7 linked regions of the Homo sapiens genome follow. The protein of the gene in region 1 purifies or fractionates together with the protein of each later gene. This does not show direct contact. Each region holds a gene or a part of one and is shown in the gene's direction. Other genes may lie near its edges. The genes, in order: CGRRF1, KIDINS220, DNAJC16, PLEKHB2, EMC10, ALG13 and TMEM201.

Region 1 (3,928 bases):
GAAGTGTAAATGCATGTTGTTTTGTTAGATATTGCCATTGGAATTGTACCTTTTTGGAAAAAAACATTTCCACCAACAATATATGAGAGTGTATTTCCACAGAGTGTATTGACAAGCTTCTGGATTTTTGTTACTTTGATGAGTGAATAATGGTGCAGTATTAATTTTAATTAAACATCTTTTAATATGGTCAAGGCTCATGTTTATATCTTTTTATGAATTGTCCGTTCATGTCTTTTGCCCATTTTTCTATAGGATTTTGGCCATTTTTCTTCAGTTTTTAAAAGTTCTTCATAAATTAGGAATATTAACCTTTAATTTGTGACACACCTTGTGAATATTTATTCTAGTTTGTCATGTGTTTTGACTTTGTTTATGGTGCTTTTTATCATGTATATTTTTAATTCTTATATAGTCAAGTGTATTTCCTCTGGGTTTTGAGTTGTAGTTAATGTCTTTCCTTACACTGAGACTAAAATGGAATTTGTTGATTTTCTTCTAGTACTTGTACAGTTTTATTTTTTACATTTAGATCTCTTATGTTTCTGGAGTTGATTCTTATGTATGGTATGAGGAATGCATCTAATTATATATTTTTCCAATAGCTATCCAATTGTCCCAATACTGTTTATTAAAAAAACTCTTTGGTGATTTGACATCACACCTTTATTATATTTTTGTACATAATTACGTCTGTTTCTGGACTGTTTATCCTGTTTCATCCATCTGTCTATTCATGTGCCAGTACCATACTGTTTTAATTTTAAAGGCTTTGTAGTCTGTTTTATTATCTGATGGGGCTAGTCGCCCTCATAACTCTCTCTTTTCAGTATTTTTCTAGCTGTTCTTTTGTGTTCATTTTTCTATATGAGAATTTTAGAGTCAATGCATGTAGCTCTCTAAGCAAAAGTGTTTTCTCTGGTCCCTTTACATCCAAGTTTCTTAAAAGACTGTTTAATACTGATTTTAATTCCTCTCCATTTCCTTCTTTAGTCCTCTCAAAGATTCCTTTGTCCATTGTGATAGCATTAAATTTGTAAATTTGAGTACAATTAAAATAACTCTGCCAAAAATATGTCAGTAACTGATTCCTCTGCAGTGATTATGATTTAATCAGATTGACGTAAATTTTCTAATTTATCAGCCTTTTATTTTTGAGAAGCATTTTTCTTTTTTTTTGGCAGAAGACAGTGTCTAGAAGCAGTTGAAAAGCATTTTTCATATATTTGTGAAATAATATAAAGATTTTAAGTACTGACCAGTGTTCAATTTTTATTTTAGATTTCCATGGTGTCAGTGATTCATATTCCTGATAGGACTTATAAACTATCCTGCAGAATATTGTATCAATATTTACTCTTGGCTCAAGGTCAATTTCATGATCTTAAGGTAAGCCGTACTCTGTAGTCTTATCTCTGTCTCTTTTGTTTACAGAGTTTCAAAGAATGGCCATTTATGGAAAGGTGATTATATTTTTCAGTTAATAATTACAGAAGATAACTAACTGTTCTTTGCAATTGAATTTGCTAGCTCATAAATTTTAAGCCGCTTCTTATGACCCCCAATTTTAAAGAGTAATTGTTATTTATAATAATCTTTAAATTTATTTCTTTGATTTTCAGCAACTTTTCATGTCTGCAAATAATAATTTCACTCCCTCCAACAATTCCTCTTCAGAAGAAAAAAACACAGACAGAAGTTTGTTGGAAAAGGTGGGACTCTCTGAAAGTGAAGTTGAGCCATCGGAAGAGAACAGCAAGGACTGTGTTGTTTGCCAGAATGGGACTGTGAACTGGGTACTCTTACCATGCAGACACACATGCCTGTGTGATGGCTGTGTGAAGTATTTTCAGCAGTGCCCAATGTGCAGGCAGTTTGTTCAGGAATCTTTTGCACTTTGCAGTCAAAAAGAGCAAGATAAAGACAAACCGAAGACTCTTTGAAGACATCGTAACACTGAAAAGTACACTTTCTACTAAAGATGCAGAAATTGATGATCTTGGAATTCATCATAACATGGAATCTACAGTACTGACCATCAATGAAAATTATATTTTAACTTCATATTTGTATGGTACTTGGATGATAAAAATTAATTATTCCTTTCTGCTTAGTGAATGAATACTGGAATCCATCTGTGTTGATACATAAAAATTCATTCAACTCTTGAAAAGAATCTAAGAGTTTGGCCTTTTATTAGCTAGATTTCCTCTCATGTTAATTAGAAAAATCATTCTGAAAGGCAATCCATTGAAAATTTGAGGAGGTTAAATTCTTAAGATCACTAAATGTTTTACCTTTGATGTAATCGGAGTGCAATTAAGAAAAAACTTAATTCTACTTAAAGTAATTGTGTGTTCCCTAGTTTATACAAAGGAGTTGGAATGAGCTTCTTTAGATCTTTTCCTGAAATAACAGCTTTTATAAATATCCATCTGTTTGGTTTCTAATGTCCCTTATTATAGTTACGTAAATACAGGTCATAGTTTTAAATATAGGTTCTTAAATCATAAATACAAGATATAATTCTTGACTGTTCTCCGTGTATTATAAAATGATACTCATCTATAGGAGGCAGATATATAAAATTCGGATAATAAGATTTTTTGGATAATTAAATTTATTAAATTGATAGTCAAGTGTGATTAGATTAGCAGAATGTGATCTCCAGGGAAGATCTGTGAGACCTTTAATGCCTTACCTTAGATTTCTGCCTGCACAGCAAATCCATCCAGAACTGAGGTGGGAGGTGGAGGTTATAGAGCTAGAAAAATCACTAAAAGAAACAAATAACTATTTTTTTCTAGTGTATTTTTATTCCAAATAAACCCTGTATTCTTCTGAATAGTAAATTACTTTATTCATCCATTGTTCTGTCTGTAAGAATTTTGAAACTTGGTAGGCAGAAAGACCCCACCCTTTTCTCTTTCCAAGATAACTAAAAGAAAAAGGTAAATCAGAGCTTTCCATGTTTTCAGTGAGAATTATCATAACTCACCAAGAAAGCAGATCATGGCAAATAAACTGTGACCTTCAGGGAGATTTTTCAAGCCCCTTTTTGTCCTGTTTGTATTAAGAATAATGCCTTACCTTTGTATCTGCATTTTTATATAATTCCATTCCAACCAGGTATAGCACTCTGAAGAAGACATTATCTATTCTCCATTATATAAACCAAATCAAACTTTCATCTACATTCACTAGCTATGTAATAAATACCTTCTAGGAGCCAGATACTTGTTGAGAGTCTGGGCTACAAAGAATCAGGCAAGACTCCTGATGTCAGGTATTTGAGCATAAAAAGAGCATTGATGGCTAATTAGAACCCCCCGACTTGCCACTCCCCCGCCCCGCCCCGAAGTTCCTAAGACTCTGTTCCAACCCTGCCACTGGAAGCAGGGTAGTCCAAAGCTGCAGTCCCTGCTGCCCTTAAGCTGCAGTCCCTGCTGCCCTTAACTAGCAGTATAACAATCTTGAAAAATCTGTCATGTAAATTGGGGGAATATTCAGACTCCATCCTAGCTCTGCTGCCTCTCTATAGATCTCTTTGTACCTTAACTGTCCTAGACACTTAGTTGGTTTCTCATCAGAAGCAGACTCCACCAAGCCTGCATTCTTATTCCATGTTTCATAACTTCGTTTGTAGTAAAATATACATATATAAAACTTACCATTTTAACCATTTTTAAGTGTAAAATTAGTTGACATTAATTACATTCACATTGTTTTGCAACATTCACCAGTATCCATCTCCAGAATTTTTCATCATCCCAAACTGAAACCCCATGCCCATTAAACAATAACTACCCATTCTCCCTCCCGCCAGCCTCTGGCAACCACCATTCTATTTTCTGTCCCTATAAATTTGACTATTCTAGGTACTTCATGTAAGTGGAATCATACAATATCCTTTTGTGTCTGTCTAAAC
Region 2 (4,484 bases), on another chromosome or scaffold:
CCATGTTCTTAAGGATGGGTAGGAGCTGTTCAGGCATATATACGTGGAGAATGGACTTTCTAAGCAGAGGGGGCATTAAGTGCAAAGGTCTGGAAAGAACAAAGTGTGGGGCAGTGAAGGAGCTGCAAGTAGATCAGTCTGGCTGGAGCTGGAGGTGTAGATGTGACTATGTAGAGGGTGGGAGGGATGGGGCTGAGGAGGGGAGAAAGATAAGGCTGGAATGGTAAGATGGGGCCAGATTGTGAAGAATCTGCATGCCCTCATCATAATCAAGAATTGAACTTACTGAGTTTTCACTCTGCTCAGTGGAGAGCAAAGCTTTCCGTAGGAATTGTGTATTTGCATCTTTACAATGGCTTTAAAAGCCTTAGAAGGCGTAAGTTCCTTGAATAACTTGTAAGTAGTAAAGCTGTCATCTGTCCTCCCAACCTTGGTTTTAGGAGAGATGTATTGTAGGTCACTCTTGCTTCAGTGTGGCAAATGGATTGCAGGTGGCAGGCCTGGAGAGAGGAGGCAAAAGTTGCTAGCCTGTCACATTGATCTGGGTGAGAGATGGTGTAGTAGAAGTTTTTAGGATTGATGCCTAGATCACAACTGTTTACTCTTTTCTGGAAACAGTGCCAATATGGTGTGACCTTGTAACCCCCTCCCAACTTTGTGTCTCTAGTTGCTTGGTTCTGGGTGTGCAACAGATCCAGCCTGGGCAGTCAGAGCCCTTTTCTGGGACTGTTGGATCTGGGAACAAAGAATAGCCTGCTTTCTCTGGTGTTAGAGACTATCTGATTTAGGCCAGGTGCGGTGGCTCACACCTGTAATCCCAACACTTTGGGAGGCAGAGGCAGGCGCATCACTTGAGCCCAGGAGTTTGAGACCAGCCTGGGCAACATGGTGAAACTTCATTTCTACAAAAAATAGAAAAATTAGCTGGGCATGGTGGTGTGCACCTGTAGTCCCAACTACTCAGGAGGCTGAGGTGGGAGGATCGCTTGAGCCCTAGAGGTCAAGGCTGCAGTGAGCCATGATCGTGCTACTGCACTCCAGTCTGAGTGACAGAGTGAGACCCTGTCTCAAAAAATAAATAAACGATCTGATTTGAGGCTGGATGGCTGTGGGAAGCCATATTTCCCTTTGTGTAGAAGTAGTTGGTCTAGAAGGAAAGTAGATTAAGCCAGTAGAGAAAGAGAATCCTCCTGGCATTTGAGGTCCAGTGGCACCCACTCTTCCTGTAGTGTGGTTATGGGAAATAAACCATTATCCTTCAAATACATTTTTCTGTTTTGCTTAAGCTAGTTTAAATTAGTCTCTTGCAACCTTAGGGGTCTTGATTAGTATAGATGGTGAAGGTCTAAACTAAGGCACTGAGTGTGGGGTTGGGTGATCTCACACTTTAGGGGGTAAACTGGATGAAAAATGGTAGCTGTGTGACTCAGAGGGAGATGGGTGCCTTGGTAGAGTAGAGATGAGGATGGTGTTCTACATGGAAGGAGCACATTGAGCATAGGCGGGAGTGTGGAGCAGCACTGGGGGAGTGTGGTGAATTTGAGTTCTTCTGCTTGGCTGGGCTGTGGGGTGAGCTGGGGCTGGTATAGAGGGAGAGCCAGATCCTGCAAACCTCACTGAGGCCTTAGGCTTGATCCTAGAAGGAGTGGGAATAAATGAAGGTAGGTGTTGGTGATGACTGCTAATACAAACCCTCACTGCTTTCTAATGATAGAAGCATCACATTCCAGAACATGTAGGAGATAAAGGTTTTAAAGAAAATAAAAATTACACTAATGCCCATCACCATTTGTTCTTTTTTTATTTCCAGTATTTAAAAATGTATACATTTAAAATAGCTGAGATGCTGTATATATAGCTCTTAATCTTTTACCTCACTTCTTCTATCATGAGCATTTTTCTGTAACACATTTTTTGAGACATTTTGATGACTGTATATTATCCTACTTTGTGAATTTTTATAATTTATATAATATCCATTTCTAAGATTTTTGTTCTTATGGATAAAATTGTTTTACTTAAAATCTTAAAATTTTGTTCATGTTTCTCATGTTTTTAGAATAATTCCTAGAAGTGCAACTATGGGATCAAATAACATCATTTTTTAAAATAATAGTTTTTCACCCCAAGAGTATAAATTCAAGTTGTTCTGAATATATACTCCCTAAAAGTAAGGTATACTGATTTATACTTTACATGTAATAACATTCACCCTTTTTAATGGACAGTTCTGAATTTTGACAAACGAATGATTGTGTAACTGCCACAACAGTCAAGATATAGAACAGCCATTAACTCGCCAAATTCTCTTGTACTCTTTTGTAGCCATCTCATTCCCCTGCCTTAGACCCTGGCAGCCCCGATCTGTTTTCTGCCCCTGCAGTTTTCCTTTTCCAGAATGCTATATAAGTAGAATCATATAGTGCTATAGTTTCTGCCCTCTGGCCCCCAGAGATAGATTTCCTTCCTGTGTCAAAACATATTCACTCCATCGCAAGGCCTCCCCAAAAGTCTCAGTTCATTTCAGCATCAACCCAAAGTCCACAGTCTCATTTAAATCTCATCATCTAAATCAGGTATGAGAGGGTCTGGGTGTAGTCCATCCAGAGGCATGATTCCTTTCCACCTGGGAAACGCAAGAATCAAGTTATCTGCTCCAACTTAGAGTTAGGGAATGGGCATGGGATATCAGTTATAGACAGTCCTGTTCAAGGGTGGAGGAAAAGGAAGGCAAAGAGGATTCACCAGTCCCAAATAATTTCATTTTCATAACAGCCAAAGTTTTCAATTTTGACGAACTCTGGTTTATCAGTTTTCTTTTTTTATGCACCATGCTTTTAGTGTTATATCAAATCTTTCTTAATCTAAGGTCACTGAAGTCATCTATATTTTCTTCTAGAAGTTTTGTACTTTCAGACATTATATTTAGGTCAATTTTGAGTTAGCACCTGTATGTGGTACAAAGTATGGATTGAGGTTTATTTATTTGCATTTGGATGTCCAGTTGAATATAATAAAATTTCTACTCTTTTAGAACTTATAGTTATGGTAGACAGACAATAAGTGAACAATATGTCATTTTTTGGATGGTGGCAAGTGGTGTGGAGAGCAGTGAAAGCAGGACAAAGGGTTGAGAGTGCAGGGTGACAGTGAAGCCTGTGTGGGGTCGGTACCCTGACATCCCACATCCGGTGAGACTTTGTAACCAGGTGACCTGACGGGGTCAGGGGGTAAGCCGTGTGCATGTCCTGTGGAAGAGAATTTTAGGCAGACAGAAAAGTAGCACAGAGGCCTGGCGAGGTGGGACGGTGCTCAGTGTGGCCATGCAGCCAGGAGGGTGAGAGGGGGTGGTAGGAGCTACAGTCACAGGTGTCACACAGGTGAGAGGCTTGCCACTGAAGAGTTATCTTGGCCAAGGTAAAAACATTTGATTTTACTTTGAGCACCCCGAGAAGCCCTTAGAGGGCTTTGAATAAAAGAGGCCATGCTCTGACTTAGTACTGCTCACATTGTGGTTCTTCCTCAGTGTTGTCAGTGTCACAGGGAGCTGGATAAAGATGCAGAGTCAGGGGCCCCACTCAGACCTGCTGAGTCAGAATCTCTGACGGTGGGGCCCAGGAATCTGCTTTAAAAGCTCTTCAGGTGATTCTGATATATGTTAAAGTTTTAAAAAAAGTAATGTAATTTTAATTGACAAATTATATATATTTAGGGGTACAATGTGATGTTTTGATACATGTATCCATTGTGGAATGATCAAATCAGGCTAATTAACATATTCATCACCTCCCATACTTAATTATTTATTTGCAGTGAGACCATTTAAAATCCACTCTTCCAGGTAAAGTGGAGGCAGGGAGGCCAGTTAGGAAGCGATGATAGTGACGCAGGTGAGTCACGGTGGCTCGTCCAGGGTGGCAGTGATGAAGTGGTGAGTAGTAGTCAGATGTGAAATGTATTTTACAGGTAGAGCCAAAAGCATTTGCTAATAGATTGAGTGTAGGGTGTAAGAGGAAGAGGTAAGTCATGAACAATTTCAATGCTTTTGGCCTTGGAAGAATGGACCTGGAGCTGCCGTTTACTGGCATGGTGACAGCAGGAGGAGCAGGGGAGCATTTTGGAGTGGTGATGAGGAGGGTTTGGGGATGGATGTGGAGTTTGGTGTTTGGATAAGTTAAGATGGAGGTGAGTGTGAACCTAAGAGACATCACGGCAGCTTTTTGACACCTGAGCTATGGAAGCCGTGGGAAGTCGTATCTTCACTTCTGCCACTGGAGGTGTCCTTGCATGAGGTTAATGTTAAGAAGGATATTGTATTTAATAGTAACTTAATTTTTTCTAATTATAAATTATGTGTATTTTGTCTAATTTAACAGGTATTCAAATAAAGTTAATTGCAGCTTTCTGTGAAAATGTCAGTTTTGATATCACAGAGCGTCATAAATTATGTAGAGGAAGAAAACATTCCTGCTCTGAAAGCTCTT
Region 3 (4,484 bases), on another chromosome or scaffold:
AGGAGCAGCCTGGCTGCTATGTTAAGAACAGACTGTCAGGAGACAGGGAGAAATAGGGGGAGAGCATTTAGGATATTATTGCAGCAACATAGGCAGGAGAGATAATGATGACTCAGAGCAGGGCATATAATGAAAGTGATGAAAAACAGTTGAATTCCAGACATTTTCTAAAGAGAAAACCAACAAGACTTGCCGACAGATTGGATGTGGGGTGCAACAGATAAGAGAAGCCAAAGATGACGCTTACAGTTTTTGCCCTGAGTAACTGGAAGGATGGAGCTGTCATCAACTGAAATGGCAAAGACGTGGGTAGGACAGGTCTGTGGGAGGAGATTAGGGGTTCGTTTTTGGAAATGTTAAGCTTGAGAAGTCTAGTAGACATCCAAAAGAAAATGTACATTTATCGGCCTTTAATATTGAATGTGTCTCCAGTGTTAGCAGAGTAACTGGCCCTCCAAATATATGGTTGGATGAAAGAACAAGAAAAGTTGTTCAAGTATTAAGTGAAATAAGTATGAGATGACCCCATTTTGTTTTATGTATATGCATACACACACACACACACACACACACACACACACACATTTGTAACTCTTCTTACATATTGCCAGATTGCTCTACAGAAAAACTGAACCAATCTAGAATTCCAGCAGTGAAAGAATGCTAGACAGTCTATTAGGAAAGACATCTCCTATGAGGTCGGGATTTCAATTTCACACCAAAAAATTACTTAGCACTTTTTCCAGCTGCCATGGAGACATAAAAAGGCTTCATTTGGATCTTCCATTCTTTTCAGGTGTAGGAATTGGCGTGGTCCATGCTGGGTATGAGAGACGCCTGGCCCATCACCTAGGGGCACACAGCACGCCCTCTATCCTAGGAATCATTAACGGGAAAATCTCCTTCTTCCACAATGCAGTTGTCCGTGAAAATCTGCGACAATTTGTAGAAAGTCTTCTTCCAGGGAACTTGGTGGAGAAAGTAAGTATCTGTCAAGGAAACTATGGCTGAGAAGTAGTTTAAGAGGTACCTAGGACTGTTAATTGCCCAGAACATTTTCTGTAGTCCTCTCAAACCTGAGTTTCATTGTGAGGAAGGCATGACACTTATTAATTAATTAATTACTCAAACTAAATCGTTTAAGTGAAGTCTGTAGGAGACTAATAATTGAAACAGATGAAGTACAGAGACTGAAAGAATTAATTCCTATTAATACCCATCTTGCAGAACTTACACTGTCATAGGAATCTGAGCCTAAAATGACAGTGCCTATTTTCTAAACAAAAAAATTAAATCACATGTTAGAAAGAATTAGGGATTTCTTTCTGGCTCATAAATTTGTTCATGTGAAGATATTTGTCTTTATGCAAATTTAATTATATTTGGTTATATGTTTAACGATCATATCTATGGAAAATGCCAGATTCCATGAAATCAAATATTATTTTTGAAACTTCAGAAACTTACAGTGACAATAATATGAATGAATTTCACAAAGAAAAGGTTGAAATAGAGAAGCCAGATAAAGTTCACATTGGTCTATTATTTCCATATTTAAGCACCTAATATGTTTTTTTCAATATCTTAATTTAGGGATCAAAGTAACTAGGAACGGACTCTCATTTTGCTTTAAATAATTCATTCTCTTAAGAATACAGGGAAAGTGAACATAAAAAATTTTCATCGTATTTCTACATGTGCTATTCCTAGACTGTCCTACTGGGATCATTATCTATAGGAGAAATATTTGTTGGAATTAACTTAAAAGTTTGTCAGAGAATATTGGAGGCTTCTAAAATGGTGATAGATTGTCCTGATAGATCCTCAAACATTTACATAAAATATCTCTTCTGTGCCCGGCATAGATTAACATAGCCGTTTCAAGCAGCTCCCAAGCGGGTGGTTATTTCCAGTATGTTGGAGCCCATCGTAATGAGTTGGGAAAGGCTTCCTGGCAGAAGTGACCCTTGGACCAGGTTGGGTTGCAGGCAGGCAGAAATCTGGAGACATGAAATAGCCCGCTTTGTAAGAAGTTTTCACTGGTGAGCAGCAGAGGAGGGGGATGGAGAGGTTATTAGGAATCTCCCTGTGAGGGCCTCAGAGCACCTTCACGCTCCTTTAAGGAACTTGGGCCTTGGCCCACATGGAGCCGTTGTAGGGGTTTGAGCAGAAGAGTGAAATGATCAAATTTGAGTTTTATATAAATCATTCTAGATGCAGTATGGAAAGATAAACTTTTTTTAACGACTAAGAAAAATTTCTAGCTAGATAATTTATTCATGTTTTTAATTTCTCTCAGGAATATTTTAAGATATCAGTGGAGGAAAGTAACAATTCAGATAACAATAAATGAAATTATATAATGTATAGAGGGGGTGGACCAGCTTATTTTTATTTACGCCGTTTAAAAAGAGCAAGCTGGCCTGGAGTGGTGGCTCATACCTGTAATCCCAGCACTTTAGGAGGCTGAGGTGTGAGCATCGCTTGAGTCCATAAGTTCAAGACCAGCCTGGGCAACATACTGAGACCCAATCTCTACAAAAAATGCAAACATTAGCCAGGCATGGTGCCATGTACCTGTAGCTCCAGCTATTCAGGAGGCTGAGGTGGGAGGATCACTTGATCCTGGGAGGTTTGGGAGGTTGAGGGTGCAATGAGCCATGATCATGCCACTGCACTCTAGCCTGGGCAACAAAGCAAGACCCTGTCTCAGAAAAAAGGGTGAGGGGCAAGCTGGGAGACTGAGGTGTGATAGATAGATGGGAGACTGAGGCATGATAGATAGATGATAGATAGATAGATAGGTAGATAGATAGATATTGAAAGGGGCAGTTGTGTGTTATTTTCTGCTGGCTAGTATATTAAGAAGTATACTCTGTAATTAAGCAAGAACCAACTCTGGAAGCTCAGTTTTTATAATATGGTCAGTAATTGTTTCAGACAGGATTATGATTTCAGTCTGTAAGAGTTCAATGAAAATATGAAATCAATATCACCATTCTTTTAATAGCTTTAGCCAAATGAAGACAAAAAGATTAGTTATCTGCATTTTTATTTTTTGCAATCTTTTACACTTACTTGATTTGTTTATTTTCTCCTGACTGGAGTATAATACAATTGTTAAGAATTAAATATTGAGACTAACATTCTATTTTCAATTTAAGGTTACAAATAAAAATTACGTCAGATTCCTCTCTGGCTGGCAGCAAGAGAATAAGCCTCATGTCCTTCTGTTTGACCAAACGCCCATTGTGCCACTGTTATACAAGGTACTTTCTATGCTAGGATAATGGTTTCTTTTTCTTTTCTTTTCTTTTTTTTTTTTTTTTTTTAGCAGAAAGTAATCTCTGAGTTGGAACTTATAGCCTATTTGTCTTTTTTGTAAGAAACAGTTTCATCCATGAGAAATGTTTGAAGACCAGAAATTTTACATAACCATCATACATTGAGTACTGATTAATGCCAGTTACTGTGTTAGTGCTTTCTATGCACATATCATGTAATCCTCAGAAGAACCCAGTGATGGAGATACTATCCCTGTTTCTTTTTTTTTTTTTTTTGAGACAGAGTCTCGCTCTGTCGCCCAGGCTGGAGTGCAGTGGCGCGATCTCCTCGGCTCACTGCAGCCTCCATCTCCCAGGTTCAAGCGATTCTTCTGCCTCAGCCTCCCAAGTAGCTGGGACTACATGTGCGTGCTACCATGCCCAGCTAACGTTTCTATTTTTAGTAGAGACAGGGTTTCACCATGTTGGCCAGGCTGCTCTCGAACTCCTGACCTTGTGACCCACCTGCCTCAGCCTCCCAAATTGCTGGGATTACAGGCATGAGCCACTGTGATGGGCTTTTTTTTTTTTTTCGGAGACCAAGTCTCACTCTGTTGCCCATGCTGGAGTGCAGTGGTGTGATCTAGACTCACTGCAACCTCCGCCTACCGGGTTCAAGCAATTCTTTCACCTCTGCCTCCAGAGTAGCTGGGACTGCAGGCACACACCACCACGCTCGGCTAATTTTTGTGTTTTAGTGGAGATGGGGTTTCACCATGTTGGCCAGGCTGGTCTTGCACTCCTGACCTCAAGTGATCCGCCCACCTCGGCCTCCCAAAGTGCTGGGATTAAAGGCATGAGCCACCACGCCTGGCCACTATCCCTGTTTGCATAGAGCAAGATACTGAGGCTTAGAGCAGTCATATAACCCACCCAAGTTCTCACTACAGCATGGTGAGCGCGATTCCCACTGACTTCAGACCTGCCCTGTGAATGATTCCCCCACTACACTCCCAGCCTACCTACACTCCCCACTACCTCTCATGTCACTGTGACATGAGACGGAGAGGAAGGTGTTATCAGTGGCATGGTCACTGCCATCTTACCTAATTACGGTACAGGTAATCCCCAAACTCATGCCTCCTGACCAGTACAGATTTCAAGAAGATCGTTATTTTGCTTTAGCTATGAAAAAGAAGAGAGTTGTTTGTATTTACTTTG
Region 4 (4,484 bases), on another chromosome or scaffold:
ATTCACGTTATAATCTGAAGAAAGTGGTCTTCCCTTCAATACAACCCCAAATGAAAAGTGAATCATTGGCATGGAAGAAAAGACTGGAGATACTCTCAGTGACAGGAAAAAGATGAAAAGATCAGAGATATGTTAGACTAAAAAAAGTTCAGAAAGATTATTGATGTCCATAAAGTGTACAACCCAAAAGAGAGAATTACAAATCTAAGGCAAGAAAAATGTTCTGAAATAATCGAACTGAATTGGCAGACCAAAGTCCCTACTAGACTCTTCCACCTGATATGACAACAAAATCTATATAAGATATATGAATAATCCAGTATGATACCCTTTAGCAAAGTGAATGACAATGGTATGCCACATACAAAATCAGTTGGGGAATTTTGCAACTTAACTGCATTCCTTAGAAAGCTAGAACACTTGGGCTGGGTGTGGTGGCTCAAGCTTGTAATCCCAGCACTTTGGGAGGTCAAGGCGGATGGATCACCTGAGGTCAGGAGTTCGAGACCAGCCTGGCCAACATGGTGAAACCTCGTCTCTACTAAAAATACAAAAATTAGCCAGGCGTGGTGGCAGGCACCTGTAATCCCAGCTACTTGGGAGGCTGAGGCAGGAGAATGGCGTGAACCTGGGAGGTGGAGGTTGCGGTGAGCCAAGATCACACCACTGTACTCCAGCCTGGACAACAGAGTGAGACTCCATCTCAAAAAAAAAAAAAAAAAAAAAAAAAAAAGAAAGCCAGAACACTTGAAAATAAGTGAATGAATCTTTCAACTCAGGGAGATAGTAAAATGAGAATAAAACATAAAAGGAATTGATGAAGATAAGAGGGATAGGGTCAGTAAGAAAAGTAAGGGGTAAAGGAGTGAGGGAGTGCACAAGAGAACACTATTTTGTTTTTTGAGATGGAGTTTCGCTCTTGTTGCCCAGGCTAGAGTGCAATGGTATAATCTCCGCTCATTGCAACCTCTGCCTCCCGGGTTCAAGCACTTCTCCTGCCTCAGCCTCTGGAGTAGCTGAAATTACAGGCATGTGCCACCACGCCCAGCTAATTTTGTGTTTTTAGTAGAAGCTTGGTTTTACCATGTTGGCCAGGCTGGTCTCGAACTCCTGACCTCAGGTGATCACCTACCTTGACCTCCCGAAGTGCTGGGATTACAGGCGTGAGAGACTGCTTTTTGCCTATGAATTAAGAAAGCTCTTGTGATACTTAAGGTTCAGATATCTAGTTTTTTTTGACAATATAGTGTAAAGTTGGTAGGTATAGAGATTGTTAGAATCGTTTTGCAGGGCATTTTGGCAATACCTGCTGAAATAAATTATGTTTTTATCCTTTGATGTGGTATTTTCAGTCTTTGGAATTTGCCCTGTGGAGATGTTTACATAAGAGTGTAAGGGTAATAGGGATGTTAATAGCATTCTTTTCTTCTTTTTTTTTTCTTGAGATAGAGCCCCTCTCTCTCATCCAGGCTAGAGTGCAGTGGTGTGATCTTGGCTCACTACAGCCTCGACCTCCCAGGCGCAAGCTATTCTCCCACCTCAGCCTCCCAAGTAGCTTGGACTGCAGGCATGCGCCACCATGCCCGGCTAATGTTTATATTTTTTGTAGAGCTAGGATTTCACTATGTTGCCCAGGCTGGTCTTGAACTCCTGGGCTCAAGTGATCCCCCTGCCTTGGCCTCCCATAGTGCTGGGATTACAGGTATGAGGCACTACATCCGGTCCCCAGCATTCTTTTTAATGTTGAAAAATTGCTAATCTAAATTTTTTACTCATATCGTGGAATATTATATAGCTGGTAAAAAGGAAGTAGATCTGTGTGTATGCCATGAACTGACAAAGCAAGTGGCAGTACATTTCACATTTATTAAAAAGTAAAGTAAAAAGTATAGTATAGATTATGTTTTAAATATTACATATCTATTATGTATGTAATTTTTAAAAATATATATTCCTAGTGCATGTCTCAAGTGGTTTGGGGCAAAGCCTGAAGACTTGTTTTTTAAACAGATCTTTTCAGGAATTCTGATGCCAGCCCAGGTTTCAGAATCATTGCAATGTTGGATTGCCTTAAATAAAGTACCCTTTTTCTTTTCTCCAGGGCCTGGAAATTTACACTCCAAGATTCTAGGACAAACACAGTAAGTTGCTAATGGCAATCACCAATAATTTTTTTTTTTTTTGACAAGGTGTCACTCTCACTCAGGCTTGAGTGCAGTGGTGCTGTCTCACCTCACTGCAGCCTCTACCTCTCGGGCTCAAGTAGTCCTCCCACCTCAGCCTCCCCTTCCCAGTAGCTGGGACTATAGGCCCATGCTACCACGCCCAGCTTATTTGAAAAAATTTTTTTGTAGAGACGAAGTCTCACTATATTACCCATGCTGGTATCCAACTTCTGGGCTCAAGTGATCCTCCCACTTTCGCCTCCCAAAGTGCTGGGATTACAGGCATGAGCCACCACACCCGGCCACCAGTAATGTTTTCACATGGTCTTGTGTAACAATTGGAGAATGGGGAAAACGGGTTTCTTGACCATCTGGCCACGAATGGGCAGGTAGTGCTGGGCAGGGCGCCTTTTGCCAACAGTGAGCAAGCTGGGTTTGTCAAATGTTTGGCAGGAGGCACCCTGCTCTTACAGGCATGCTTGTTCCAGTGTTGCTTTCTAGAAATGCTTGTATTTCTCAAAGTTCTGCAACACTTTGAATTGTGCTGTGGTTTGCAGTAAAGGCTTAGAAAGAACTGCAGGATCCTTTTCACGCATGGGAGCTCAGCCTGTGAAACAAACATTTTTGTGACTTGTACTTGTCTCTCGTCCTGTTTCTGGCCTTAGGAGGTCACTGAGACAGTGAACCTCATTTGTAGAGCCTCGTAATGCTGTCTTTATCTGTCAGTGATCAAGGGAGTGTGTTACTCTGGTCAGAGTTTTCATTCTTTAGATGGGATTTTTCTCTCCTTTATTAATCTGTAAGAAAAGAAGAAGGTGGATCAAGCTTACAGAAGAATGTGTGCATGTGGGAGAAGAAAGTAAAAGGCTTAATATCCTAATAGCGTCAGTGTTCTCTTCCTTTGTTAGCACACAACAACTTCATTCTAAGCTTACTCTACAGCCGCAGTTACCTTTTCTTCATGAAAATCCCCCTTTTTTTTTTTTTTTTTGGGTAAAATTAGCATTAACAATCCATACAGTTAAGGGCAAGCTCCCCAAATGATTCTTTGTGTGGATTTTTTTTTTTTGAGACAGTCTCACTCTGTCGCCCAGGCCAGAGTGCAGTGGAGCGATCTCGGCTCACTGCAACCTCTGCCTCCTGGGTTCAAGCAGTTCTCCTGCCTCAGAATCCTGAATAGCTGGGATTACAGGCACGTGCCACCACGCCCAGCTAATTTTTGTATTTTTAGTAGAGATGGGGTTTCATCATGTTGGTCAGGCTGGTCTCAACTCCTGACCTAGTGATCTGCCTGCCTTGGCCTCCCAAAATGCTGTGATTAAAGGCATGAGCCATTGCGCCTGGCCACTTTTTCTTTTTTTTTAAAGAGCTAACATGTTTTTCTTTAAATTATACTGGGGAGTAATTTAATGAAGAATTTTGTTTTTTAAGGTAAAAAACAGACTTATGTATAGGACATATCTCTTGATACATTTTAGATTGTAGAGTTTTTATTTGTGAATAAAGGACTGTTGAGAGTGCTGTAACATCTTTATTTTTTTGGAGACAGTCTCGCCTTGTTGCCTGGGCTGGAGTGCAGTGACTTGATCTTGGCTCACTGCAGTCTCGAGCTCCTGGGCTCGAGTGATCCTTGAGACTTAGCCTTCTGAGTAGCTGGGGCCATAAGCACCATGCCCAGTTAATTTCTTGTTTTTTGTAGAGATGAGCTCTCCCTCTGTTGCCTAGGCTGGCCTTGGAACTCCTGGGCTCTAGTGATCCTCTCACCCAGCCTCCCCAAAGTGTTGGGATTATAGGTGTGAGCCATTGCACCTGGCCTGATGTAACATCTTTTAAAAGGCATTGGGTAACAGTGGGGCCTCTGAGTGCCTTCCTGGCTGTGAGAGCTGTAGTCCTGTTAGGGGCCGAGTGAGGACCACTTTGCTCTTGCATTTAGAGGATACCAGAATAGGGGTGGGGGCCCCCACTGGACTGGGGGAGTTTTTCCTGTTTTGCAGAGAGCTATGTATCTTTTTGTTTTTTTAAATTTTTAATTTGCTAAATAAAAGGGACAATGCACAGCATCGAGCACACAGCTGCTGGGAAGCTGTCCTGTCCTCACCCTCTCCTGTCTCCCGCAGGCGTATGTGGGCTCTGCAGTCATGACCGATGAGACATCCGTGGTTTCCTCACCTCCACCATACACGGCCTATGCTGCACCGGCCCCTGAGGTAGGGAGAACCCTGAGCCTCCAGGTGAGGGAAGTTTGGGGTCTCTGCTGCTGTCCTGCTTTGTTTTGTTTTTTTAAATGAAATTAGAAATGTACTCTAAACCTTTTCTTCT
Region 5 (4,484 bases), on another chromosome or scaffold:
CACTTTGCAGATAGCAAAATGGGGGCCCAGATGGGGAGGGAACCTGGTCACTCGGGTGGAGGCCAGGCCAAAATTTGAAGCTGGACCTCCTGGCCCCTGCCTGGGTTGAAGGGTGGGCGGGGGAGGGGGCGTCTCTGAACCTGAGCTCCTCACAGATGACAGTGCCAACTTCCGGAAGCGGGGCTCACTGCTCTGGAACCAGCAGGATGGTACCTTGTCCCTGTCACAGCGGCAGCTCAGCGAGGAGGAGCGGGGCCGACTCCGGGTGAGGTGGGGCCCTCAGGGCTGGGTGTGGATGGGGATGGAGGGTTTCCAGCTGTCTCTTCAGCCACCCCCTGCTGGTCCCCAGCAGCCTTCCCTCCAGGCCCAGGTGGGCTCCCAGCACCACCTGCCACTCTCAGCCTCTGTCCTCAATGACTGCCCCTGGAGGAACGGCATTGCAGTTCGTCTTAGCGCCGCCAGGCATGGTGTCCTGCATCACGGCCTCTTCCTGCACTGCTCCCTCTGCTGGCAGACCCCCTTCCCCTGCAGGTTCACACAGTCGGCTCCTCTTCTTTTCCAGATCAGCTGAGCTGTTTCATGACCACTTAGATGAGATTTGTTTGTGAGGAGAAAGCCTCAAAATAGCTATGGTTGGACAGGAGCTCACTTCTGTCGCCCTGTGTTGTGGCAGCCTCAAGGGCCCAGCTCAATCCTCCGCAGGGGTCATGCAGAGAGGCCCCAGGGCTCCAGGCAGCAGGATAGAGAGGGAGAAAGAGGGGCAGAAGGAGCAGCAGCATTTAGAGAAAGCTTGCAAAAGCTGGCACAACCCACTTCCACCCATCAGCCAGATGTAGCTGTGAGGGAGGCTGGGGAGTGCAGGCTTGATTCTGGTGGCCACGCGGTGAGGTCTGCCTGAGCACCCTTCCTGCATGGTACCCACATGATTCTCTTGTCACAGCTGTCCCCAAACAGAATTTATTATGCATGTAACTGGTACGTCCAGGCATAGGGTGGACGCCAGGTGCAGCTGGATCCAGGCACAGGGAAGGCGTCCTCAGGACCCACTCCATCGCTGGGCTGGGCTTTGCCCTCCTTGTGGTGGCTTTTCCCCTAGGTGGGGCGGTCCCAGCTGCTCCTGGCCTCACCCACCAGCCGGGCCACCCCAACAGGAAGAGTCCTGGGTCGACTCAGGTTGGCTGGCCTGGGGAGTGTGGGCCGTGAGGTGGGTGGGGCTGGAGAGGGGCCTTCGCGGAGGCCTGGTGGGCATCACAGCCTGTCCAGGGCTGACACCATCCTTCTGACCAGCACCCTCTTCTCCCATCCCCAGGATGTGGCAGCCCTGAATGGCCTGTACCGGGTCCGGATCCCAAGGCGACCCGGGGCCCTGGATGGCCTGGAAGCTGGTGGCTATGTCTCCTCCTTTGTCCCTGCGGTGAGTTGGTGTCGGGGATGAGCCCCCTTCTCCCTCGTCCTCCTCATCCCCTACCCTGGTCCTGCTTCCACCATTCGAACCCCTGTGTTTCTGGAGCCCGCAGAGGCCTGGGAGACTCAGACCTGGCCTTGCCTTCCGAGGCCTCCTGGTCTGGAGGGGTCGGTCCAGGTAGCGGGTGCTTTCATGGGGATAGCATTGTGAGGACTCCCGGGTGGGGGGCGGTTGAACTTGGGCCTGAGGGTAACAGGGAGCCATGGGAAGGTTTTGAAAAATGCTCCGGGGGTCCTGTGGTGGGGGCCGGGGGAGGTTAGGGTGGAGCCCAGGCAGCAGGCTCCCCACCTCCACTGACCCCACTCCCCCCACAGTGCTCCCTGGTGGAGTCGCACCTGTCGGACCAGCTGACCCTGCACGTGGATGTGGCCGGCAACGTGGTGGGCGTGTCGGTGGTGACGCACCCCGGGGGCTGCCGGGGCCATGAGGTGGAGGACGTGGACCTGGAGCTGTTCAACACCTCGGTGCAGCTGCAGCCGCCCACCACAGCCCCAGGGTGAGCCTCTGCTGCCTTCGCGGCGCTCTTGCCACCTGCCCCGGCCCTTCCTGGCGGCCTCAGGGTCTCCAGGTCCCTGGACTCCGGGCCTCACCCTTCTCCTCCTCTCCCCTTGCCCCAGCCCTGAGACGGCGGCCTTCATTGAGCGCCTGGAGATGGAACAGGCCCAGAAGGCCAAGAACCCCCAGGAGCAGAAGTCCTTCTTCGCCAAATACGTGAGTGGGGCTCCCCCGCCTCCCCTATTCCCTTCCTGACAGTCCCGGTGCCTGGCCAGGCCCTCCATGCTCCCACCCAGACTCCCCTATGGTGCTCGGGCCTGCTCCTTGTCCTCCGGGCCTCCTGTGTGTCCTGGTACCTGGGCTGAGGCTTGTTTGCAGGAAGAGGGTATGGAAGTGTGGTCAGGGGAGGTCGGGCCAGCTCTAGGGCGCAGGGTCCTGGGGGAGGTCTCGGCCTGAGCTAGGTTGGAGCCATGAGGCTGGAGAGGAAGGGAACAGTGGAGGTTTCAAAGGAACCAGGGAGGCTTGGAAAGGAGGGGCGAGCAGGTTCTTCAGGGGGTTGTACAGGAAGGAGAGAGGAGTGGGTCCGGGAGGGATGTGGCCCAGGGAGGGGCATTGGGGGCAGCAGGGTGCCTGGGAGGCCTCCTGGAGCTGAGGAGGGAGGGGCCTGTGCTGCCAGCAGCAGGTCTGAGTCCCGGGGGCTTAGAGGCTGAGGCGTGGGGTGGGGAGGCTGGGGACAGCCGGAGGAGGTGGCTTCCACCCAGGCCTCTGGTCCATTGAGTGTGGAGACTGGTGTTAGGTTGTGGCACAGGAGCCCAGGCAGGCCAAGGCCAGCGAAGAGGTCTGTGTGGCCCGAGGCAGGCTAGGAGGATGCTGAGGCTGGGATGGCTGAGCCCTGCTGTGCTGAGTGCCCTGCCTGAGGGCCTCACCCGCTCCGCCTGGATAGTCCAACAGTTGTGCTGCAGGGAACTGAGGCCCAGAGGCTGAGCCCTTGCCTGCTGGGCCCTGCCCTGCTGCCCACTCGAGCGCCCTCCCACTCCCTGCTGGCCCTCAGGCCCCACGGCAGCCCACTGGCCCTGACCTGCGCTCCCTCCCTCCCCAGTGGCACATCATCCTGGGGGGGGCCGTGTTGCTCACAGCCCTGCGTCCTGCTGCGCCAGGGCCCGCGCCACCGCCACAGGAGGCCTGAGTGAGGACCGAGACCCCTGCCCCTCCCTGCGCCCCACTGGCCCTCCCTGACCTGTAGTGACGTAGGGGACCTGGGCGCCCTCCCCTTACGCGACCTCCCCTCATGCCGGTCCCCACCGTGGGTGGGTGATGCCCACACTCACCTCCTTCCCCTCTCTCTCTCTTTCTGTGTCTGTCTGTCCATCCTTCCGTCCGGCTGCAGTGGATGTACATCATTCCCGTCGTCCTGTTCCTCATGATGTCAGGAGCGCCAGACACCGGGGGCCAGGGTGGGGGTGGGGGTGGGGGTGGTGGTGGGGGTAGTGGCCGGTGAGGGCCCAGGCTGGTCAGCGTCCCGTCTTGCACACCCAGGGGCCTCCCTTTCTGCTGGAGTCCCCTGTGTCCTCAGCCATCCCAAGAAGGGTTTGCTGGTCCCTCCTTTCCCCCCGTCCCACGAGGCCACCTGGGCCAGCCCCTTGTCCTCTGCCTTCTGCTGGCAGAGGAGCAGCTGGACTGGGGCCTTTGGCACAGCAGCCGGTGTCTCCTGCGCCCGCCTCCCCCATGGCCCCATGCAGCCCCAGGGGCTTCCCCCCTGCCCATGGAGTAGAGCCCGAGATCCTGGCCACTATGCCAGTTCTGACCTCGCATCCCCCTACCCCGAGCCCATGCAGTCTGGGAACATGCCGCCTTCTCTCCAGCCTCTGTGCCTTTGTTCCAGGTGGTCTCACCCTCCTGTCCCTGGCTGGGCTAGGTGGTCCTGTCCAGGCTCCTGCAGCGCCCCCCTCACTTTGACACTGGACTAGGATGCAGCCTCCCTTCTGTGTCCCCTTGAGGGTACCCTGGGTCCCCTCATCAGGGGCAGAGGCATGAAAGAGTCGGGGCTGGATGGCCGGGGGCTTCTGGGCCCGACGCCTAGTGCAGCCCCTGGGGTCGTGGTTTGACATTTGTCTGCCTGGTGCAAACAAGGAATCCTTGCCTTTAAGGTGACAGGCCCTCCACAGGCTTCCAGACTTGAAGGAAAAGGTTTAAGAAAGAAAACAAAACCAACAGTTAGTGGAGTCAAAGCCCAGACACTGTAAATAGAACCCCCTCCACCACCCCCCGCCGCCCAGCATCCTACCTGGACTGCGGTGCTACGAGGGCCTGCGGGCCTTTGCTGTGTGCCACCCTCCCTGTAAGTCTATTTAAAAACATCGACGATACATTGAAATGTGTGAACGTTTTGAAAAGCTACAGCTTCCAGCAGCCAAAAGCAACTGTTGTTTTGGCAAGACGGTCCTGATGTACAAGCTTGATTGAAATTCACTGCTCACTTGATACGTTATTCAGAAACCCAAGGAATGGCTGTCCCCATCCTCAT
Region 6 (4,484 bases), on another chromosome or scaffold:
GATTTGCCTCTGCTGGACATTTTTTATAATTGGAATCGTATACACACACATAGCCTTAACAGTTTTTATGTTGACTCCTACCATGGAATGTGTTTATTTTTACCTTGTTACTTTTAAAAGATACTGTATATCCCTATTGAAACAATTGTGGAGCATTGAGTGGCTTAAGGAGGTGTCAGGCATTCCTAATGACTTGACTTATGAATAAGTTCCTTATTTTCTTGTACTCTTTTTTTCTACTAGTGTAGAAAAAAAATAGATATTTTTAGGAATTTAATGAGTAAAAAAATCTAGTGCAAGAATGATCTGTGAAAACTTTGTACGTGTGTGCATGCGTGTGCTTAAGGACATTTACTGTCTGCTCTCTTATTTAGATGACCCTTTTGTCTTTTAGCTCTATGGGTAGTGTGGCATATTTGAAATAACCAAATCTTTGCTCCCACCTTAAATCTGGAGGAGTTTCATGCGTGTGTGTTTGATAAGTGGTGTGTTTAAGAATCAAATTTAGTTTAGAACTGCGGGTTTATATTTGGTGGAAAACTGTCCGATTGAGTATTGACTTTCTCTGCATTTCAGTGGTACAGAAATCTTAAAAGTACTTCAGTCTACTGAGCCATCCTTTGAGGACACACTCATTTTACATGTATTACTTACATGAAACAGATTGAAAAACAGATGAGGCATACATGTTCCCTTAATGTCCACCTAAGGAAACAGTGGATTATACTCATACTTTATAGACACCATTGAGTATTTAGTATGTGTAAAGCACTATGCTAAGTTACTTTCACTTCCATTAACCATCCTCAAAAGGCCTATGAGCTAGGTACTGTTACTCCATTTTACAGTGAAGAATTGAGGCACAGAGATTAAATAACTTGCCTAAAGTCATGTAGTTAATCAGAATTCAAATCTAGGCAGTCCTCACTCCAGAGCCTATGTGCTTAATCACCACACTGTAGCCTCACTGGAAAAATTGGACACAACTGAGTTTTCACTTCTGCCTGACCTCTAAGAGCTAAGTGGATTTTCAGAGGAGAAATTTGTACAGCTTACAGCTAGTCTGTGGCTTCAATATCTGTTGACTAGTGTGAAAGCTCATATCACTTTTCAGGATGTATGCATTTTAGTTTTGAACATATAACCATAAAACTGGTGGAAAAAGCAAGTGCTGGCCATTTGGCTCTGCTGAGCTAAAAAGACCTATATAAACACATTTCTTCTGTCTTGTCTTTTTTCCCCAGGGCGATATCATGAAGAATATCTTTATCGTGCAGGTCAGTAAGATCTAGAAGTGATCTGGCATTCATCATTGTTTATAGAATTTCAAGCTATAAAATAATGCTCATTTTTTACTTTGGCTATATTCTCTAGAGCCAGACTATGAAACTTCAGGTGTTTATAGCACAACTGCATCTACAGCAAACTTGGTAGGTATTTAATAATAGCAAAGAGTTATAGCTCCTACTATGTACTAGGGCACTGTTAAGAGCTATACATATAAATGTATTTAAATCAGAACAACCCTGTGAGGCTTAGTATCATTCTCATTTTGAAGATGAAATTGAGACAGAAATTAACTCGTGTTCTGGAACTAATATATTTAGAGATATTCTAACATAGGCAGTAATGATCTTTTAGAAGGTTTTATTATGATTTTTTTATTAGAATGGATGATACATCTCACTCAATATAACAAAAGTTTGCTTCTCCTTTATGCTACATGTCTAGTAGAGGTCTGTAGAAGGGCTTGCTCAGGTACTTAGGCTGATGGAAATTCATCCACAATTGCCAAGGCAGGAAATAAAATTCGGTAAATGGTGCACTGGCTCTTAGAGTTTCCACTAGAGGTGATACATGTCACTTTCTTTTCCATTTCACTGGCCAGAGCAGGTCCCACTGAAGAGTCTTAACTTTTCTGTGCTGGAAGGCAAAAAGAAACATGTTAACAGCGCTAAGAACTATATCATTCAACTTGCCCTCCCTCTCATAGGCAGAATACTTGTTTCTGTCTCAAAGGAGGCATCCTAAAATGTCCCATTCAGTGTAATCAAACTCAAAGCCTAGGATTTCTGGGCTATGTGTAGTACTTGTTATATTGGGTCCAGATGTAGCTTCTTGTGATCTTGAGACTTAAAACCAAAAATACAGAGGTTTTATTTTTTCCCCCTCCCTCCCCAGTTTACAGTGCTGAAGCAGGGACTGAAATTTCTATTCATAAAGGGAGAAAAAAACAGTTATTGGCCTGTAGCAATTCTGAGACCTTCATGGGCAGACGTTGTAAGGGCCCCCAACATACTCATGGGACTCTTCCCTGGAGGAACTCTCGTTCATTTTCTGGGGCTCTTGGTTACTCCCAAGGCCCATCCTTCCTTGGCAGTGTTTGGAGTAGGCATTGGAGAATAATCCTTCCTTGGCAACCGAGCAGCTTTCTAAGCTTGCTACTTACAGAAGATTGGAGGCCCAAGGGTGGTTTTATCTCAGTTGAATGGTTTTAGTTCTGGCTCGTGATTTCTTTGGCTGTAAGATTAATTTATTCTGCTTCTGTTTGATTTCTTTTGGTTTCATGTACCAATAGCCATACTACAGTTCTTTTCTATAGATATACTACTAAGATTTGCTATAATTCTTTGTGGTTTTATCCTTATATTTCTGTCTATTTGATTGCAAGTGGCTTGAGTTTATCAGGCACTGATGGAAGAGCCATGCATTTTGGACATTTTTCTACAAGCCATTTTGTTGAAGTGCAAGGATTTACTAGGTGTTACATCCTTAGTTGAACTCTAGCTTTGAGACATCTTAATACACTCGGGTTTTAACCAAAGAGTTCATTCTTGCTGCGAGGTCGAGTTTTCACTGTTTGTCGTTGTTCAAACCATTCATCAATATTACCTTTTATAGTTTAGGGTTGAAACAGTTGTTCCTTCAACCCTGTGAGTCCCTGTATGCAAGGAATCTATTCCCTTTCATTCCTGCCTGCAAACTACTAATTCTCTCCTACATACACCTGTCTTAAAATAACTTGCTTTAGACAATGCCAACAGTTATCAAAGCACAATACTAACATCATGTCTTCTAAATTGCTTACCCTAAGAGCTACATGTTCATAATCTCCTTCTCAATTAGGATTTTGTTATAGCCGTACCCTACTTCTAGTTACCAATTTCTGTTTTAGTCAAGCTAGGTTATGCTGCAGTTAACAACCCCCCAAAATCTCAGTGGCTTAACTCAGGAAAAGTTGTTCTTGCTAATGTTATATAGTTCAATGCGAGTTGGCAGCAGGCTGCCAGACTATGACTGTTCTTCATAGTCACCCAGGGACCCAGGCTGATGGACACATGCCATCATGATCATCACAGCAGGGCAAAAGATACAGAAATTGAACACTGACATTTCTGGTCATATTTTATTGACCAAGTAACATGGTCATTCTTGACTTTGGATGGAGCTGGGAAGGGCAATCCTACCATCTATTCAGGAAATCTGGAATATTTATGAAGAACTTGAATAACTACCTTATATTCTCTAATTATGACTAAACTGTGGCAGCTTCATGTACTAAATTTTTGTTTTTACTGTTTAGACAATATACCTTAGGAAGGAGAAGAAAACTCTGATACGTAATTCTCTTTCTGTTCTTTCTCCTTCCCTTACTTTGCTCCTTCCAGAGAAAGTTTTTTCCCCCATTTCCTGCCACCATTACTATTCTCATATCATGTGCTTTTGATATCACCTCTTGAAGTAGCCAAGTAAGAATCTTACCACAAGGGATGACAAGAATACTTTTTTTCTGTTCCTTCAATTTCACTTGTCACATGTTCCTTTTTGTTCTGAATTTAAACAACCTCAATAGCTTTCAATCTCTTCATATGTTCCAAGCCCTCTGCCCCCATCACCAAATCCATAGCAAATTTCTATTGTTGCTAAAATAAAGGATAAATGTCTTCAGAATTATCAGCATACATTAAAAAAAAACTCTTTGTCTTTAATTTTTAATTTCAATAGGTTTTTTGGAGAACAGGTGGTGGTTGGTTACAATGAATAAGTTCTTTAGTGATGACTTCTGAGATTTCAGTGCACCCATCACTTGAGCAGTGTACCACTGTAAGCAATGTATAGTCTTTTATCCCTCACCCCCTTCCCACCATTTCCCCCGAGTCCCCAAAGTCCATTGTATCATTCTTATGCCTTTGCTTCCTTAGCTTAGCTTCCACTTATGAGTGAGAACATATAGTGTTTGGTTTTCCATTCCTGAGTTACTTCACTTAGAATAACGGTCTTTAATTCCATCTGAGTTGCTTCAGATGCCATTATTTTGTTTCTTTGTATGGCTGAGTAGTATTCCATGGTATATATGCACCACATTTTCTTTATCCACTTGATGATTAATTGATGGGCATTTGGGCTGGTTCCATATTCTTGCGATTGCAAACTCTGCTGCTATAAACATATATGTGCTAGTATCTGTTTTGTGTAATGACTTC
Region 7 (4,484 bases), on another chromosome or scaffold:
TCAGAAGGGCTCTGTGCCAGGGCTGGGGTGGGCAGCTGTGTTTGGGGTACAGACACGTCCACAGGAGTCAGGTTTGGGAGCCAGTGACAATGACACCAGCTGGCTCGGGGCCCGGCTCGCCTCCTCGCCTTTGCTGGATCATATTTTTTCCGTCTCAATAAACTGTTGCTTAAAACGTGGTCTCTCTCCTTCCACTCCTGATGTGGGCTGGGATTGGGTCGGAGAAGACCAGACATCTCCCCTTGGTGTCAGATGAGCGTATCCGCTCCGGCACTCCCCAGAGCCAGCATCCAGGCCTGATCCTGGTCACTTAGTCCCTCTCTGACACTCCCCAGAGCCAGCATCCAGGCCTGATCCTGGCCTCTTAGTCCCTCTCTGACACTCCCCAGAGCCAGCATCCAGGCCTGATCCTGGTCTCTTAGTCCCTCTCTGAGACGTGGTTTGAGGGCACAGGGCAGTCGGGGGGGGTCTCTCGCCAAAGGAAATGTTAGCACCTTTGGAGTTCTCCAGGGTCCAACAGATTGGGCTCCTTTAGCTGGCGGAGGCTCGCTGGGGCGCCTGTACAGAGCCCAGCCCCTCATGCCCAGCCCTGTGAGCGATTTACGAGGTCTTGCTGGTTGAGTGATGTTCCCACATATCACAGTGAGGGAGTCAAACTGCGAAGGAACTCCCCACAGCACCATCTTCAGTGGCACCAAACTGGGAACAACAGCCCCTGTGCCAGGTGGCCAGGAGATTCAGCCTTTAAGCACTGAGGCAGCCCCGGGTGGTGTGAGCAGGAGCTGGGAGGAGTGGGGATGCACTGGCAAGACCCAGCCACTCCTGCTAGAGCCCACCCTTTGGGGCCAGGAGCTGCGTGGCCCAGCTGACCACCTCATACCCACAGCCCACTAGGACCCTCCTTTCACACATCCCCCAACGGTACTCTCAGGTCACTGGGGGACCTGGTCACCCTTGGCTGACTCTTGGCTATGTCTGTGCTGCCGGGCAGGGTGGGCACAGGAAGCCTAGCGCAGAGCCCTGCCCCACAAACTCCCTCCCATGGAGGGTCATGCCCCAAGGTCCCAGCAACACCTTCACTGCCCCTGCCTAAAGGTGCCCTCAGGGTCATTCCCTGAAGTCGCTGCGCTGTCCCGCCAAATGGAATCAGAATTCTAACATGACGACACAAAACCTCATCTTCTGTGTAGAGGTGGAGCCTTCCCTGGAGTCTTGGGGGCAAGCAGCGGGCGCTGGGCCTGGGAATCACAGGTCAGCAGGCGGAACAAGGATGTGTCCAGTCCGGCTGACCGGGGCCTTCCCCAGGGTCCCCAGCTCAGCTCCTGCCTTGATGCCCACATTCGCCAAACATGGCCTCGCCTTTGGTTCTGAAGTCCAGGTGGTCTCCTGGCACCTTGGAAGGCATTAGAAAGGTTACATGATTCTCCGGGAAGTCAAGAGCTGGCCCCACACTTTCCTTATAAAACTTTTTTAGAGGGAAAGTAGCAGGGAGGTTGGTGGCGCGCGGCTTGGCTAGCGATCCCCGAGCATGCAGTCATGCTGGGCGCAGGTCCCTTAAGCAGCCCCCGGCTCCTGCAGGGCGTGGGCCAGCCTGCCCGCTCACCAGCACGTTGTCCACTGGGCTCATTTGTCCCTTGGCACCGAGGTAAGGCTGGACCCCCGGAGCTCCGTCCAGACGGTGGACTAATGTATTAACTGCCTCTGTCCCTCTCTTCCCTCTGTAATTGGGTGCCTTAATCAGAAGCATGGTTGACGTTCTGGCGTGGGGCCATCAGGTCCTGTTGTGTGATTTGTACCATCTCGAGTTAAAGAGACACTGTCACCTTCCGTCTTTCGGGCAGCCTTGCGGTCGTGGATGGGTCTCTTCTAAGTTCGGTTTTGGCGTTGTCCTGTGAGAGCCTCTTCCAGGGGGTTCCAAGGCCTGGCTGCCCCCCAGTTCTGCTCTACCAGGAACTTCAGAGGAGTTTCCAGAGTGCAAGGCCAGAGAGCAGGAGGCAGCCTTCTAAGGGCAGAGCTGTGGGAGGACTTCCAGGAATCACACCTGGGAACAGAGGGTGCCCAGAGCCGTGCTGGGGCCTGACTTCCTATGATCCAGGCCCATCTGGGAGATGAGCCAGGATGTCCCTGAGCCCGGCCGCTCTGTGGGAAGGCTCGGCACAGAACAAGAAGTGGCAAGGAGTCCAAGTCCATTAACCTTCATTGAGTGCCTGGCACGGGGCTGGGCATTTTTGCTTCAAGGCGAAAGGGTTGGCATGAGGTTGGCAAAGGCGACAGTGTCACTTTAATACCGAGACTCGTAGTGGAGATAGTTTGCTGTGAGCCGAGGGGGTAGGAGGGGGCATGTGGGGAGGGCCGGGTCTTGCTGGCACCTCCCAGCCACCCGCTCCTAATGGCGTGAATGTGGTCGGATTGCTTTTCTGCTTTAACTAACGCACGCCTCCTCTGGGACCCCAGCTGAGGCCCCCACCTTGCACTGTGGGAGAGGGGTGGGACCCACTGCAAGGCTGCCTCCAGGACCTCCCGCTGACCCTCTTCTTGTCCCGTGCCTGACGGGCCCTTGCAGGTTCTTCCCAGGAGACTCTGCCGGCCTTTTCCCCACCAGCCCCAGCTTGGCCATCCCTCACCCGAGTGTCGGAGGCTCTCCAGCGTCTCTGTTCATCCCCAGCCCGCCCAGCTTCCTGCCCCTCGCCAACCAGCAGCTCTTCCGGTCTCCTCGACGGACCTCACCCTCCTCATTGCCTGGCCGCCTCAGCCGGGCCCTCTCTCTGGGAACCATACCCTCTCTGACTCGAGCAGGTAAGGGGTGCCCAGGCATTGGCAGACAGTCAGGGCTAGGGGCAGCTGGGACAGAACTGTGGATGGGTACATAGTGTAGGGAGGGCCGGGAGTGGTTAGTGTTCCTGCTGCAGAGACAGGCAGCACAGAGCTTTGAGCCTCAGTTCCCCCCAAAGAAATGGGGCTAGCTAGGAATAGGTGGCTCATGCCTTTAATCCCAGCACTTTAGGAGGCCAAGGTGGGAGGATGGCTTGAGGCTAGGAGTTCAAGACCAGCCTGGGCAACATAGGGAGACGCTGTCTCTACAAAAAAAGTTGTTTTAATTAACTGGGCATGGTGGCGTACACCTATAGTCCCAGCTATTTAGGCTGAGGTGGGAGGATCGGTTGAACCCAGGAGTTGGAAGCTGCAGTGAGCTATGATCACGCCACTGCATTCCACCATGGGCAACAGAGCAAGACCCTGTCTCAACAAAAATAAAAATAAAGTGCCCAGAATTGCCATATCATCTGGGAGCCCCAGCACGGCCCCTTAGTCCCAGCTCTGGTGACATGACCTTGGGTAAATGTGTGCACCGTGCTGTGCCCTAATCTTTTCCTCTAAAATTGCAACATGCCCCTCAGCAAAGGGGGCCACTCTAGTTATTCTAGGGGAGGAGATGCTGATAACAGCCAAGGCCCCTCTCCTCTCGTGCAGTTACAGGGCAGGCCATTTTGTACACACGCCAAGGTTTATATTAGGATGCTTTTGCTTTTCCCCTAAGCAGAGATACCCCCCTATTTTCAGGGCACCCCAGCCTGGTGGCACTTGAATGGAACTTGGGGTGGGAGGTGCCAGGAGCAGCCCTGCCCTGGGCCTGAGCACTCCGAGTAAACTCTGTGCGCACTGACCAAGGTGGCAGAGCTCAGGGACTTCTGTTTCAAGCCCCTTGGGAGGGGAGCGTGGCAATCCCAGGGCCAGTTCAGGCCTCCAAGGCAGGGGCTCCTGCCCACAGAGAAGAACAGGCAATCTCCCTGTTAAGGCTCAAGGCAGGGACACAGTAGCGACCTGTCTGAGGTAGCAGCAGAGGTCTTGGGGCGCAAGCTTGTCTTGGAGTGTCCGGTGACAGATGGGACCCCAGTCTCCATTACCAGAGTGGGTCGGGGGGAGGAGCCCGGTCTCCATCGCCAGAGGGTGGGTCGGGGGCAGGAGTTCCTGCAGGGCTTTGGCTCATGTATTCAGAGACGCGCTGGACCGGGCTCAGGTGCTGTGGCCAGAATCCAGCTTGCTGTCTCCCTGTCTGTCCTCAGTCCGCTTCTCTGCCACACACCTCATCCCTGTGTCCTGCAGCCCATGCCCAGCAGGAAGACGGCCTCTCCCAGCATCCATAGAATGGATTCTAGAAGGACCCTGGTTGGCATGCTGGGTCCTTGTGACCACCCTTATCCAGCCTATCCCCTGGCCTGGTGAGGGGAGGGTTATCTGCATGCTGCAACAGACCCTTCAGAGCCCACAGGTGGCAACAGGACATGAGGCAGTCCCTGGGTCCCACATTCAGCTCTCAGCCAGCCACTTGGAATTGGGGCCCCTGCCCTTGGGGTGCGTGCGCCTGATTTAGGAAAAGGCAGCGTGGTTGGTGATCCCTGGGATCGAGAGAACAGGCAGTTGGGGTCTGCAATTAGTGGAGAAAGTGGGACTAGATGGCTGGAAAAGCAGGCCCTTCTGTGGGA

Evidence for each region.
Region 2: the proteins of CGRRF1 (region 1) and KIDINS220 purify together in Homo sapiens (affinity purification with mass spectrometry; 3 studies listed by BioGRID and IntAct, with this or other methods). This does not show direct contact.
Region 3: the proteins of CGRRF1 (region 1) and DNAJC16 purify together in Homo sapiens (affinity purification with mass spectrometry, with the first as the bait; one large-scale study listed by BioGRID). This does not show direct contact.
Region 4: the proteins of CGRRF1 (region 1) and PLEKHB2 purify together in Homo sapiens (affinity purification with mass spectrometry; 3 studies listed by BioGRID and IntAct, with this or other methods). This does not show direct contact.
Region 5: the proteins of CGRRF1 (region 1) and EMC10 purify together in Homo sapiens (affinity purification with mass spectrometry, with the first as the bait; one large-scale study listed by BioGRID). This does not show direct contact.
Region 6: the proteins of CGRRF1 (region 1) and ALG13 purify together in Homo sapiens (affinity purification with mass spectrometry, with the first as the bait; one large-scale study listed by BioGRID). This does not show direct contact.
Region 7: the proteins of CGRRF1 (region 1) and TMEM201 purify together in Homo sapiens (affinity purification with mass spectrometry; 2 studies listed by BioGRID and IntAct, with this or other methods). This does not show direct contact.

What each region holds. Positions count from the first base shown.
Region 1 is NC_000014.9:54,536,441-54,540,368, forward strand, and holds the end of CGRRF1 (cell growth regulator with RING finger domain protein 1), read left to right. Parts: intron 1-1,281; coding exon 1,282-1,389; intron 1,390-1,622; coding exon 1,623-1,943; 3' UTR 1,944-2,852; downstream 2,853-3,928. UniProt on the Homo sapiens protein: Able to inhibit growth in several cell lines.
Region 2 is NC_000002.12:8,827,022-8,831,505, reverse strand, and holds part of KIDINS220 (kinase D-interacting substrate of 220 kDa), read left to right. Parts: intron 1-4,376; 5' UTR 4,377-4,412; coding exon 4,413-4,484. UniProt on the Homo sapiens protein: Promotes a prolonged MAP-kinase signaling by neurotrophins through activation of a Rap1-dependent mechanism. Provides a docking site for the CRKL-C3G complex, resulting in Rap1-dependent sustained ERK activation.
Region 3 is NC_000001.11:15,543,603-15,548,086, forward strand, and holds part of DNAJC16 (dnaJ homolog subfamily C member 16 isoform 1 precursor), read left to right. Parts: intron 1-796; coding exon 797-981; intron 982-3,164; coding exon 3,165-3,269; intron 3,270-4,484. UniProt on the Homo sapiens protein: Plays an important role in regulating the size of autophagosomes during the formation process.
Region 4 is NC_000002.12:131,128,620-131,133,103, forward strand, and holds part of PLEKHB2 (pleckstrin homology domain-containing family B member 2), read left to right. Parts: intron 1-2,101; coding exon 2,102-2,141; intron 2,142-4,282; coding exon 4,283-4,372; coding exon of another isoform or gene 4,373-4,396; intron 4,397-4,484. UniProt on the Homo sapiens protein: Involved in retrograde transport of recycling endosomes.
Region 5 is NC_000019.10:50,478,802-50,483,285, forward strand, and holds part of EMC10 (ER membrane protein complex subunit 10 isoform 2 precursor), read left to right. Parts: intron 1-155; coding exon 156-265; intron 266-1,309; coding exon 1,310-1,414; intron 1,415-1,779; coding exon 1,780-1,961; intron 1,962-2,082; coding exon 2,083-2,176; intron 2,177-3,059; coding exon of another isoform or gene 3,060-3,146; intron 3,147-3,347; coding exon 3,348-3,458; 3' UTR 3,459-4,484. UniProt on the Homo sapiens protein: Part of the endoplasmic reticulum membrane protein complex (EMC) that enables the energy-independent insertion into endoplasmic reticulum membranes of newly synthesized membrane proteins.
Region 6 is NC_000023.11:111,729,151-111,733,634, forward strand, and holds part of ALG13 (UDP-N-acetylglucosamine transferase subunit ALG13), read left to right. Parts: intron 1-1,244; coding exon 1,245-1,277; intron 1,278-1,374; coding exon 1,375-1,430; intron 1,431-4,484. UniProt on the Homo sapiens protein: Catalytic subunit of the UDP-N-acetylglucosamine transferase complex that operates in the biosynthetic pathway of dolichol-linked oligosaccharides, the glycan precursors employed in protein asparagine (N)-glycosylation.
Region 7 is NC_000001.11:9,604,994-9,609,477, forward strand, and holds part of TMEM201 (transmembrane protein 201), read left to right. Parts: intron 1-2,563; coding exon 2,564-2,796; intron 2,797-4,484. UniProt on the Homo sapiens protein: Critical regulator of angiogenesis and endothelial cell (EC) migration. Promotes the migration of endothelial cells, which is essential for angiogenesis.